2 linked regions of the Homo sapiens genome follow. The protein of the gene in region 1 purifies or fractionates together with the protein of each later gene. This does not show direct contact. Each region holds a gene or a part of one and is shown in the gene's direction. Other genes may lie near its edges.

The links. Proteins that work in one complex are often made in the same cells at the same time.
Region 2: the proteins of ZCCHC17 (region 1) and ZC3H14 purify together in Homo sapiens (affinity purification with mass spectrometry; 2 studies listed by BioGRID and IntAct, with this or other methods). This does not show direct contact.

Annotation. Positions count from the first base shown.
Region 1 is NC_000001.11:31,342,024-31,349,050, forward strand, and holds part of ZCCHC17 (zinc finger CCHC domain-containing protein 17), read left to right. Parts: intron 1-4,616; coding exon 4,617-4,717; coding exon of another isoform or gene 4,718-4,795; intron 4,796-6,805; coding exon 6,806-6,951; intron 6,952-7,027.
Region 2 is NC_000014.9:88,566,037-88,573,063, forward strand, and holds part of ZC3H14 (zinc finger CCCH domain-containing protein 14), read left to right. Parts: intron 1-1,821; exon of another isoform or gene 1,822-2,002; coding exon 2,003-2,117; intron 2,118-5,047; coding exon 5,048-5,088; intron 5,089-5,993; coding exon 5,994-6,189; intron 6,190-6,541; coding exon 6,542-6,971; intron 6,972-7,027. UniProt on the Homo sapiens protein: RNA-binding protein involved in the biogenesis of circular RNAs (circRNAs), which are produced by back-splicing circularization of pre-mRNAs.

The DNA of each region.
Region 1 (7,027 bases):
GCCTGATGTATAGCATCCATAGTATTCATTTAGTTTTTTTGAGATGGAGTCTCACTCTGTTACCCAGGCTGGAGTGTAGTGGTACAATCGTGGCTCACTGCAACTCTGCCTCCTGGGTTCAAGCAATTCTCATTCCTCAGCCTCCCGAGTAGCTGGGATTACAGGCATAGTCCACCATGCCTGGCTAATTTTTGTATTTTTAGTAGAGACGGGGTTTCACCATGTTGACCAGGCAGGTGTCAAACTCCTGACCTCAAGTGATCCCCCGCCTCAGCCTCCCAAAGTGCTGGGATTACAGGCATGAGCCACTACCGCTCAGCCCTAGTTAGTACTTTCATTTACTCATTTGTTCAACAAATATAAGGCAACTTGTAATAAATACTAAAAGAGTAGTTTAAAGCAGTTGTCCCCGACCTTTTTGTCACCAAGGACTACTTTTGTGGAAGACCAATTTTTCCATGGATAGGGGGCTGGAATGGTTTTGGGATGAAACCGTTCCACCTTAGATCATCAGGCATTAAATTCTCATAGGGGGTGCGCAACCTAGATCCCTCACATGTGCAGGTCACAATAGGGTTTGCACTCCTATGAGAATCTAATGCTGCTGCTGATCTGATAGGAGGCGGAGCTCAGGTGGTAATGCTCCTTCACCTGCTGCTCACCTCCTGCTATGCAGCTTGGTTCCTAACAGGCCATGGACCAGTAGCAGTCTGTGGCCTGGGGGTTAGGGACTCCCTGTTTAAAGAAAGGGTTCTAGGAATTCACTTGAGGAGGAATAGTTTACTTCAGGCCTTGATGGTCAGAGAATAGGTGGTATTTGAGTTAGGTTTTGAAGAACAGATAAGATCTTGTCAGACAGCAGGGGAAGGAATGGTATTTCAGGCAAAAGAAATGGTTTGAGGAAAGGAATGAGGCAGAAAAGCACATAGTACATTTGGGAACCTTGTTTAAGGAAAGAAGAGGATATGGTCAAGTACTAGAATGGAAGGCTTGAAAGATAATTTAGGGTCAGATTGTGGAGAGCCATGAATATCAGTTAAAGAATATGAATTTTTATTTATTTATTTTTTGAGATGGACTCTTGCTCTGTTACCCAGGCTGGAGTACAGTGGCATGATCTCTGCCTCCCAGGTTCAAGCAATTCTCCTGCCTCAGCCTCCTGAGTAGCTGGGATTACAGGTGCCCACCACTGCGCCCGGCTAATTTTTGTATTTTTAGTAGAGACGGGGTTTCACCATGTTGGCCAGGCTGGTCTTGAACTCCTGGCCTCAAGTAATCCGCCTGCCTTGGCCTCCCAAAGTGCTGGGATTACAGGCGTGAGCCATCACACCCAGCCCATGAATTTTTTTAAAAAAGCCTTTGGACAGAGAGGCTTCTCGTCAGATTAACCTCCCCAGGAATCCCATTGTCTGGCCTTGCCCTGTTATGCTCAGTATTCTCATCCTGTCTTCAGCCATCCATAGTTTGTTAGCCACCTTTCATTTTCCATAAAAATCTAACTCTTATATTCATCCCCTCAGGTCCCAAAGTGTTAATGAGATAATCTAATAAGTGACTCTGTAAATGGAAAGGGGCTAAAAGCAGTTTCCAATTAGGCATAGCCTGCAAAGTACAGTCTTTTTCTTTTTTATTATGATCAAGATCAGAATTGAGTGTAGTATATAATTTTTTTTTTTTTTTTTTGAGACAGGGTCTTTGTCTCCCAGGCTGGAGTGTAGTGATCATAGCTCACTACAACCTCAAATTCCTAGGCTCAAGTGATCCTCCTCCTTCAGCCTCCCAAGTAGCCAAGACTATAGGTCCATGCCAGCATGCCCCACTAATTTTTTTTTTTTTTTTTTTTTTTTTGAGACAAGAGTTTCACTCTTGTTGCCCAGGCTGGAGGCAGTGGCACGATCTCGGCTCACTGCAACCTCCACCTCCTGGGTTCAAGCAATTCTCCTGCCTCAGCCTCCCGAGTAGCTGGGATTACAGGCATGTACCACTATGCTCGGCTAATTTTTGTTTTTTTAGTAGAGACGGGGTTTCTCCATGTTGGTCAGGTTGGTCTTGAACTCCTAACTTCGGGTGATCTTCCTGTCTCGGCCTCCCAAAGTGCTAGGATTACAGATGTGAGCCACCATGCCTGGCCTAATTTTTAAATTTTTTGTAGAGATGACGTCTTGCTGTGTTGCCCAGGCTGATCTTGAACTCCTGGTCTCAAGTGATACTCCCACCTTGGCCTTCCAAAGTGCTGAGAGATTATAGGTGTGAGCCACAACTGCTGGTCCATAGGGTAGTCTTTAGAAAAAGCACATATGACTTAACTCTGTTAAAATTTTTCATTTGTATGTCTCCCTCCATTGCCAGACTATTAGTTCTTTCCAGAAAAGAATCATGTTTTGTTCGTTTTGGTATACATAATTATTACTATCACTAGTATTAGCACTGGCGTTATCCACTTACTAGCTGTACTGAAAAAATGAGATTAATCTCAGAATCTGTGCTGGGATGGATTGGAGGAAGAAAACTGGAGGCAGGGAGACCAGTGAGGGAGTTATTACTCTAGATGAAACATGATGGGAGCCTAAACTAGAATGATGGCAATGAGGACAAAAAGAGAGACGTGGGTGACTGACACATTTGTTGAATTGAGTGTTAAGTGGGAAGTATGATTTGGTTTGTAGTCTGGTAGAAGCCACAGAGTATTGGAATTGATTGTCATGGGGGTTGCTTAAGCTGCAACTCACAGCCACTTGAAACTCATCTCTACAAATAGATAGGTGAAAGCAAAAACCATGTTTGTGAGTTCCTTGAGTTATGTCCTCAAGTTTCTGCCTTTGTTATGGGTTTTTTTTTGTTGTTTGTTTGTTTTGGAGACAGGGTCTTGCTCTGTCACCCAGGCTGGAGTACAGTGGTGCAGTCCGCTCACTGCAACCTCAATCTTGCAGGCTTAAGTGATCCTCCTGCCTCAGCCTCTCGAGTTGCTGGGACTACAAACACAAGCCACCATGCCTGGCTATTTTTTTTTTTTTTTTAAGTAAAAGGAATCTGTACTGTTAGAAATTAGAATTGTGATTACCCTTGGGGGAGGCAGGTAACTAGAAGGGAGCATGAGATGGGCTTCTGAGATGCTGGCAATGTTCTGTTTGTTTGTTTGTTTGTTTGTTTTGAGACAGAGTCTCGCTCTGTCGCCCAGGCTGGAGTGCAGTGGCGCAATCTCGGCTCACTGCAAGCTCTGCTTCCCAGGTTCATGCCATTCTCCTGCCTCAGCCTCCCAAGTTGCTGGGACTACAGGCGCCCGCCACCTCGCCCGGCTAATTTTTTGTATTTTTAGTAGAGACAGGGTTTCACCTTGTTAGCCAGGATGGTCTCGATCTCCTGACCTTATGATCCACCCGCCTTGGCCTCCCAAAGTGCTGGGATTACAGGCATAAGCCACCACACCCAGCCTTAATGTTCTGTTTTTTGATCTGAGTACTGGTTACTTTGGTATGTTCAAATTATGAAAAATCAAGTGAGCTGTATACTTATGACAGACATTTATATATATATATATAATATAATATATATATATATATTAGTTCTCACACTGCTATAAGAACTACCTGAGACTGGGTAATTTATAAAGAAAAGAGGTTTAATTGACTTATAGTTCCACTGCCTGTATAGGAGGCATGGCTGGGGAGGCCTCAGGAAACTTACAGTCATGGCTGAAGGGTGAAGGGGAAGCAAGCATATCTTCATATGGCGGCAGGAGAGAAAGAGAGAGAGAGCAAAGGGGAAAGTGCCACACACTTTTAAACCATCAGATCTCATGAGAACTCCCTCACTATCACATGGGGGAAATCCGACCCCATTATCCAATCACCTCCCACAAGGTCCCTCCCCCAACACTGGGAATTACAATGTAACATGAGATTTTTGTGTGTGGGGGAACACAGAGCCAAATCACATCAACATATATATTATATTTTGGTAAGAAGTCTAAAAATGTTTTAAAAGGCTATGAGAAATGCAACAAAGAGATTAATTCTGTCTGAGGGGCTCAGAGGAAAAGACTTGATAGAAGGAGAGCTAGTAACTGAACTGAGCCATGAAATGTCTAGGTATAGTGAAGTGGTGAGGTGAGAGTCAAGTGGGGAAACAGAGCATTTCAGAGAGGGGGAGAACTGCCTGAGCAAAAGCACTGAGCCACATGGATAAGAGAAAATAGACTTCTTTGGCCAGAGCATATTGTGTGAGTAAAGATGAGGCTGGAAAAGTAGTTTAGAGACAAACTGTGAAAGACCTTGAATGCCAAGGTAAAGAATTTGGAGCTGATTTTCTAGAAAGCCTTTGAAGGTCTTTTAAACCTATGAGTGACCTGGTAAGGGTTGTAGGGTGTTTAGCATGTTGAGTAATTATATATTTTCATCCTCTGTGCATTAGTGAGATGAAGGTTAGTCTCATTCGTAATTGTTAATTTAGGGCTATTTCACATCATTGCATTTACTGCCTGTCTCGTTCTGTCAAAAACTTTCTTTCTTTCTCCCCTTTCCCTGCCAAAAACAAAAAACCAACATACAACCTTACCTTGTAGTATCTCTGGCCATATCTCTTAAGGGGGCCGGCAGTCGGTATCTTTTTCATTATAGGCAAGAAGAGAGGCGGAGGCGATCCTTCCAGGATTACACTGGGCAGAAGATCACCCTTGAGGCTGTCTTGAACACTACCTGCAAGAAGTGTGGCTGTAAAGGTAGGGTGAAGCCTCTGCCCTTTCCACGTTTCTCTCCTTGTGGATGGACCCTTTTCTGGAAGAAGGAGGCAGCCCAGTGTGAGTTTAGTTTACCCTGTTTTTTAGCCAAGTGATGGCCTTTGCTGTTTTTTCCACCAGACTCACATCAGAGTTCATGGGGTGATACATTTTCTGTTTTCTTTTCTGAGTGCTGGCCCTACCAGATACTATACCACTACCACCACTCCTCCCACCCCACCCACAGCATATGCCTTGTCTGGGCAAGACCCCCATGAACTATGCCAGGAGGAGTAAGAGTGTTGGATTATGATTAACACTCTAATTTTATCTCCAAGGATGATGATTCTGCAAAAATTAAGCAACTTAGACATATATAACTTAAAGATCCAAGTCAGACTCTCATCTTTATCTCTTTAATGTCAGAGTTCTGAATACAATATCTTTTTACAGGATATTGAATAAAGAATACAGGATAGTCACTTCTTTTTAGCTCTATTTCCTCAGGTTTCCTCTACTCTTACTCAAATTTTAAAAGGTCTTTCAGCCTGATCCCTAGTTGGAGCTATAATGAGAGAGATTGCCAGCTTCTCATTTTCAGGTTGACCTCAATTGTCACCCCTTCTCCCTAGTCTTCCGTCTACCCTACTGTGTGATTTTTCTACAATAACTGGTAGCAGATTTGTGCCCTGGTTGAAGTTGTGGGGTTTTAAGCCCCTATTTATCATTAGCATAGAGGGGAGAAGGAAAAAATAAAATTGAGAGAAAGAATACCTCCTCAGGAAAACTGTGGGAACATTCCAGGTATTTGGAAAACTCTGCTATATTTCCCTGCCAGGTGCCACCCAGCTGTTGGACCCAGAGGTACAGAGTACTTTACAGATAGCTTTTTTTGTTGTTTTTAAGGTAGGGTCACCCAGGCTGGAGTGTAGTGTTATGATCATGGCTCACTGCATCTTTGACCTCCTGGGCTCAAGCAATCCTACCTCAGCCTCCTGAGTAGCTGGGACCACAGGTGTGTACCACCATGTCCAGCTAATTTTTAAAAATTTTTTGTAGAGACGGGGTTTCCCTGTGTTGCCCAGGCTGGTCTCCCTGGGCTCCAGTGATCCTCCTGCCTCAGCCTCCCAAAGTACTGAGATTATAGGCATAAGCCACTGTGCCCAGCCCACACATAGCTTTTTGATTATCTCATACAATTCCTCTGTGCCCCTAAGACAGGATCTACCACAAACTCAGACACAACTAGCAGTGTAGAGCATAGCATCTGTTAAAGGGCCCCTCAGTACCACTATAGGCTCAGTGAAGGTGGGGGTCTTTTAACCTTAACCGTGTCCAACAGGCATTACATAAAGAAGAGAAGAATAATGAGAGGTGGAATTTGTCCCAGTTAGTAAAGGTCAGGTCAAAGGTAGTTGGTTTTGGTGCAGCAGAAAGCACAGGGCAGGGAGGCATGAGACCCAGGATAAGTTTGAACTCTGCTTCTGTCTATATGACCTTGAGCTACTTCTCAAATCTGGGCTTTCATCTTCTACAAATGTAGGATGGATTTAATGATTTCCAAGGTGCTTGCCAGACCTGACAGTCTGTAAATGTTCAGTGCCCCTAGGTGACTGTGCCTATTTCTCTGTGTGTTAGCTTAGATGTGAGTGCCCACTTGCTACCAGCTACCTACAAGCTATATTCCTTTAGGGCTTGGCCTGCCACTCAGCTCCTTCTGCTAAACATCCTGCTCTCTGGAGCAGTCTTTGATTGTCAGGAATATGTTCCAAAATAGATCTTAAAAAATTAATAAGCCCCATTGTTAATGGAGGGCAGTAAAAACCTGCATCCTCATATCCTTTGCCATTTCGAGAACAGTACCAGTGTTCCCCACAGCCCTGAGACCAGCTGCTAGTCTGGCTGTGGTTGAGTGAGCAGTGTCATGTTGAGGTGGTAGAAAATCTACCCTGAATCAAACAGCTGCTTTGAATGAACTCAACAATATTTCCTGAGCCAGCTAGCCCATTTCAGGAGACTTGGGGAAAGATTCACTTGCTGAGAAGAGAGACTACTTCCTTTTTCTATACCTTTTCTACTTTTCTTCTGCAGGCCACTTTGCAAAAGATTGTTTCATGCAACCAGGTGGGACTAAATACTCTCTGATACCTGATGAGGAAGAGGAAAAGGAAGAGGCAAAGTCAGCAGAGTTTGAGAAGCCTGACCCTACAAGGAATCCTTCTAGAAAAAGAAAGAAGGTGAATGCTACTTTGCTTTTATTTTATCATGTCTTTTTCAAGTTTTAAGATGAAAATCTGAAAAGCCTCATGCAGC
Region 2 (7,027 bases), on another chromosome or scaffold:
CCCCGGCTAATTTTTGTGTTTTTAGTGGAGACGGTGTTTCACCATGTTGGCCAGGCTGATCTCGAACTCCTGACCTTAGGTGATCCACTTGTCTCAGCCTCCCAGAGTGCTGGGATTACAGGTGTGAGCCACTGTGCCTTGCCTAAATTTTTTTTTGGAAAATTTAATAATGTTACTTGTGTTAATATAATTGGATTTGTGATTAACATGTGATGGATTTATTTTTTAATGAATTAATAAATACTTTTTAATTAAAAATGATCAGTTCTAATTTTGAACACCATAAATAATAGAACCTGCATAAACCAAAGAAGGGGCCCAAGACCAAACAGTTTGAGAATTGGTAATTTATGGAGTACTTACCACCATTTGCTGGGCACTTTCATAAACGATTTGTTGTCAGGATTGTTGGAAGACTAACAGATGAGAGAATTGAGGCTCAGAGAAAATAAAGCTGAACCAAGATTTATTTATTCTTTTATTCTTTCAACACTTGAACTGCATTTTTTATAGTTTTCTTTGAAACAAAAAAAGTACTTCTGAAATGAACCTTTCTGCCTGCATAGAAATATTACAAGTATTTAAGGTATTAAAGAAATTTGTCACAGCATGGTGGTTCACGCCTGTAATCACAGCACTTTGGGAGGCCGAGGTGGGTGGATCACTTGAGGTCAGGAGTTCGAGACCAGCCTAGTCAACATGCTGAAACCTGGTGTCTACTAAAAATACAAACATTAGCTGGGTGTGGTGGCAGGTGCCTGTAATCCCAGCTACTCGGGAGGCTGAGGCAGGAGAATCGCTTGAACCCAGGAAGCAGAGCTTGCAGTGAGCCGAGATTGTGCCACTACACTCCAACCTGGGAGACAGAGCAAGACTCTGTCGTAAAAGAAAAAAAAAAAAAAGAGAACTGGAATGGAGTTTTGAGGGTCAGAGATTAGAGTTCCTGATAACAGCTTTTGCTTCCTTATCTTCTTAGTGAGGTTTTTGTTTTTTTGTTCTTTTAAATCCTAGACCTCACTCTCATAATCACTGTAGGATTACCACTAGGAGGGTGTTTTTTGGCTTCTTTTATTTATTTTATTTATTTATTTTTTTTTGAGACAGAGTCTTGCTCTGTTGCCCAGGCTGGAGTGCAGTGGCAGGATCTGAGCGCACTGCAAGCTCCGCCTCCTGGGTTCACACCATTCTCCTGCCTCGGCCTCCCGAGTAGCTGAGACTATAGGCGCTCACCACCACACCCGGCTAATTTTTTGTATTTTTAGTAGAGACAGGGTTTCACTGTGTTAGCCAGGATGGTCTCAATCTCCTAACCTTGTGATCTGCCCACCTTGGCCTCCCAAAGTGCTGGGATTACAGGCATGAGCCACCGCGCCTGGCCTTTTTTCTTTTTTTTTTTTTTTTATCCTAGACCTCACCCTTATAATCATTGTAGGATTACCACTGTGAGGGTAAAACCGTGCATTGAGTTGACATTATTTAATGTTAAAATTGATTTTTTTAAATGATGTGGAGCTTTTGGGTCTATTTGTTTATTCGATGTTGCTACAAGTTTGTTACTGTGAGTAATTGAAACCTGCCTTTAGCAAGGGTAAAGATGTTCACTTGAGAAATGAGTGTTATTTTGAAACTTTGCAAATTAAAACTAAACAAAACTCAATTCTTTTTCTTGGGGAATGTTCAAATATTTCCCATAAGCTTCTTTGAAATTAATAAGCATTATTAAAAAGATTCAAGGAAGTGAATGCATGCTCAAGTTTGACCCTATAATTCAGAATGTTTAGTTTTGTAAGTATCAATTATTCTTAATTTCCATTCTTCTAGTATTTGAAATACCTGTGGAATGAAGAGAAAAAAATTAAAGCTAAGCCATCTTGTCCAATGTAATTCCAGTAGAGCTCTGCGACTCTAAAGCTTAGAGCTACATCTATATTTTCAAGCACATCAACTTTAAGAAGAAAGTTTTGAGGAAACAAAGTTTTGATCTACCTTTCCTTTTAAATAGATGAAGAACTTCCTGATTACATTATGGTGATGGTGGCCAACAAGAAAAGTCAGGACCAAATGACAGAGGATCTGTCCCTGTTTCTAGGGAACAACACAATTCGATTCACCGTATGGTATGTTTCTGAATTTTTGTGCCTCAGACCAAAGTTTGGCACAAGCCTGAGTTGATATTCTGTCCAAAGAGAGGTTCTTGACACTTGAGTTAGGTTTACTTTGGAGAGGCAGTTTGTGAGTGATGAGAGCACAGCCTCTGTATTAGTCCATTTTCACAGTGCTATGAAGAAATACCCGAGACTGGGTAATTTCTAAAAGAAAGAGGTTTAATTGACTCAGAGTTCCACATGGCTGGGGAGGCCCCAGGAAGGGGAAGCAAGCACCTTCTTCACAAGTCGACAGGAAAGAGAAGAGTGAAGGAGGAACTTCCAGAGACTTATATAAAATCATCAGATCTTGTGAGAACTCACTGTCTCTTGAGAACTCGGGAACTCACTGTCTCTTGAGAACTCACTATCATGAGAACATCATGGGGGAAACCACCCCCATGACCCAGTCACCTCCCTCCCTTGACAGGTGGGGATTACAATTCAATATAAGATTTGGGTGGGGACACAGAGCCAAACCTTATCAGCCTCTGAAGCCAGACAGCCAAAGTTGAATCCTGGCTGTGTCTTGCCTTGGTTTCTCTAGCTATAAAATGGAAATAGTACAGCCACTTGCTTTATAAAATTATTATTGAGGATCAAATGGGCTAATATGTGTAAAGTACTTATAGGTGTCCCTAGCATTTTCCTAAGGAATTCTTAGTATATGTCGGCTATACTTAATATGTTTCTTTTGTAAACTTCTATATCTTTTTTTTTGAGACAGGGTCTTGCTCTGTCACCAGGCTGGAGCACAGTGGTACAATCATGGCTCGCTGCAGCCTCGATCTCCTGGTTTCAAGTGATCATCCCATTGCAGTCCCCTCCTTCCTGAACTCCCATGCCTGACTAATTTTTAAATTTTTTGTTCAGACAGGGTCTTAGTATGTTGCCCTGGATGCTCTTGAACTCCTGGGCTCAAGCAGTCCTCCTGCCTTGGCCTTCAGAAGTCTTGGGGTTATAGGTATGAGCCACTGCACCTGGCCAGCTTCTGTATCTTATAGTTCCTTTTCCCCCACCAAAACCAGTTACAGATGTTTTTTTGAACTGGGTTGGCTTCTTACATTGCCTTTTACAATGAGTTACCTTTAGAGGGCAAGGTTTTCTGTTTCTCACTTTTCTGTTTCTTACTTTTTAAGCTTTTTGTTAAACTCACACCTTCATTTTGAGTAATAATTGTAGTGTAATGTTACAGCATATTTTGAGATTATAAGTTTTTTTAAGTTTGGAATTTTAAAATAGGCAACTTTGCTTTTATACATAAATTACTGTTATATGCCTTTAGTTGAGAATACTGACTAGAAGAGTAAGATTCAACTTAAGATGCTAGGTCCTGGTACCAGGTTTGAGGTAAAGTGAGGATGAGGGCTGGAGGATAATGATGTAGCTGAGAATAGACAGACGAAATACTTTATTAGGCTTCTCAGGCTAGGAACTACCAGTTACCGTGAAAGGTGATGATGTAGCAGAAGTGAGCAAGTGGCCTGCCGAATTTGAGTGCAAGAGGAGGCACTGAGTGGGGAGATGAGCCTGGTTAAGTTCTTGCCTTTATACCAAAGGTCGTCTTCAAGGTGTTTTTGCCCAAGTAGGCAACTGTATGCTTATCAACCGTCTTGAAATTCTGCACAGAATTCTCTGGGTTTATACATTGCACAAATTTGAAGAACATTGTATAGTGGTCATCAGTTGTTATGATACACTGCTGCCTCACTGTGGGTGACCCAACCCATTTGTTACAATTTGTCCCCAGAGGTTATTCCCTCCCAGCCCCCCACAAAAAAAGACTGTGGGTCTTTTGACTGGGAAAATTACCATTATTGTGAGTACTATTTTTTTTTCTAAAGCGACCGAGTAGATCCTTTTCTCCGATAACTTGATAGAATACTTAGATTTTTAAAACAGACTACCAAATGAATTTAAAACCAAATTAATTCAACATTCTCATCTGGCCATAAATTGAGTTCTTTAACATGTAGTGAAGCAAAGGGTGATGTCCCCATTTTGGCACTTTGCTTTCTTAAGTTAGTGTTCATTAACACCAGCCCCAAACAGACTATTGTGATTATTTGGAGCCTTGAAGTAATTGTGTCCGTGGGGACAGTAGCATGTGACTAGGGTTCTCATTGAAACATGAGGTTTCTGGCATATTTTGAGAGGTACTGGGAAGGGATGTAAGGCAAAGTACCTCATTTATAACTACCAAAACAGGTTATGTTACAAGCAAGATTACAGCCTTACAGCATCAGTTTTGAAAGTAATAGAGTGAAATGATATAGCATAGTTTGAGATTATAACTTGTTTTAACCTCTCAGAATTAAGTTGTCCAAGACACCATCTAGTTTAAGCAGTTAATATAAGCTGCTTAAATGGTGGTAATAATAAGCAATATTACATGTTTATGATACTTGTTTTACTGTAAGCTACAGTAAATCTTTAGTACTTACAAACAGGGTGACATATTTTGTAGACTAAGACTGGTCAGATGATATTCTTTCCCATATTTTTGCAGAGGCTAGATGTTGAAAACAGTGAAGAAAAAAATACAATTTTTTATTGACTTCTGTAGGATTTATACAAAGCCCTTTTTTAAAAATGTGAAGTTTGAAAGTTCATACCATTTATTCACTAAATACAGTTTATCAGTATTTATCTCAGCTAGGTGCGGTGGCTCACGCCCGTAATCTCAACACTTTGGGAGGCTGAGGCAGGTGGTTCTCTCAAGTCCAGGACTTCAAGACCAGCCTGGACAACACAGTGAAACCCCATCTCTATTTAAAAATAATAAAAATATAAAAAAATTTAAAAAATTATCTCTGAATATAATGTCATAAATTTAGAGTGACAGTTGAAATGAAATCTTTCTTAACAGAAGGTTTATTTTTGTTTTTTGTTTTTTTCCTCAGGCTTCATGGTGTATTAGATAAACTTCGCTCTGTTACAACTGGTAAGATTCATAACTTTTTTTTTTAATTTCTGCTTGCTATGGCATATGATTTGTTTCTTTCTAAAGTCATAGTGCTTTGGGAAAAACCCATCAATTTCAAAACGGTTCATTTGAACTTTTTTAGAAAGCACATACTTTTATGAACTTAAGAGCAGTAAATTTAACATAATTCAAAGATAATTTAAGTGTGGGAGAGGGAGCAGTGCACTTTATCCGAAGGAAATAATTACATATATGTGCAAAGATTTAGCCTCAAGGATATTTCAGTATTTTATAATTGAAAACAATTTAAAAGTTCAGTCATAATAAACGAAATTGTTGTATTACCATGTGTGGAATAATATTTAACTATTAAAAATAATGTTGTGGAAGAATAACAGAATATACACGCATAAGATACATGTTTTAAAAAATGTGTATATATGCTCTTCCCCCGAAAAATCACCTTTGAGATAATTGGTGATTTTTATTATATTTTTAAAATTTTCTACAATAAACATACTGCTTTTGAATTGGTGATGAGGAAGGAAACGACTTAAAGTAATAAAAATAGATGGCCGGGCACGGTGGCTCACGCCTGTAATCCCAGCATTTTGGGAGGCCAAGGTGGGCGGATCATGGGCTCAGGAGATGGAGACCATCTTGGCCAACCAACATGGTGAATCTCCGTCTCTACTAAAAATACAAAAATTAGCCAGGCATCGTGGCACATGCCTGTAATCCCAGCTACTTGGGAGGCCGGGGCAGGAGAATCGCTTGAACCAGGGATTTGGAGGTTGCAGGGAGCCGAGAACGCGCCACTGCCCTCCAGCCTGGCGACAGAGCGAGACTCCATCTCAAAAATAAATAAATAAATAAAAATAAGAAATAAAAATAGATTAAAAGGACTGTATTTTTCTTTTCAGAACCCTCTAGTCTGAAGTCTTCTGATACCAACATCTTTGATAGTAACGTGCCTTCAAACAAGAGCAATTTCAGTCGGGGAGATGAGAGGAGGCATGAAGCTGCAGTGCCACCACTTGCCATTCCTAGCGCGAGACCTGAAAAAAGAGATTCCAGAGTTTCTACAAGTTCGCAGGAGTCAAAAACCACAAATGTCAGGTAAGAGTCTGGTGTAGACCTGCTGGGGGCAGATGGCTCTGTGTATGTGACATTTATATTAGTTTTTATATCTTTCAGTTTGCTGTTCTCAGCAATTTTTAGAAACAATGAAGTGATCGTGAGTAGTTTTTTGAATAAAATAATGGATAAGATCTAAGTATGATTATCTTTTATCACAAATTTAGTAAATCAAAGTTGAAAGAAAGTGCAATTTCAAAGCAGTTTTGAATGGAATATGTAAAGGGAGTATCCTCAGTTTTTTCATTGAAATTTTTCAAGTAAACATTCTTTAAAGATTTGGTGATAATTGCCCTAATTTGGCTGTAATACATTTTGTTGTTCTTTTAAATAGACAGACTTACGATGATGGAGCTGCAACCCGACTAATGTCAACAGTGAAACCTTTGAGGGAGCCAGCACCCTCTGAAGATGTGATTGATATTAAGCCAGAACCAGATGATCTCATTGACGAAGACCTCAACTTTGTGCAGGAGAATCCCTTATCTCAGAAAAAACCTACAGTGACACTTACATATGGTTCTTCTCGCCCTTCTATTGAAATTTATCGACCACCTGCAAGTAGAAATGCAGATAGTGGTGTTCATTTAAACAGGTTGCAATTTCAACAGCAGCAGAATAGTATTCATGCTGCCAAGCAGCTTGATATGCAGAGTAGTTGGGTATATGAAACAGGACGTTTGTGTGAACCAGAGGTGCTTAACAGCTTAGAAGAAACGTATAGTCCGTTCTTTAGAAACAACTCGGAGAAAATGAGTATGGAGGTTTGTATGTACTTTTAAATTCTGGCTTAGGCTAAAAATCGGCAGTTCTTGATACC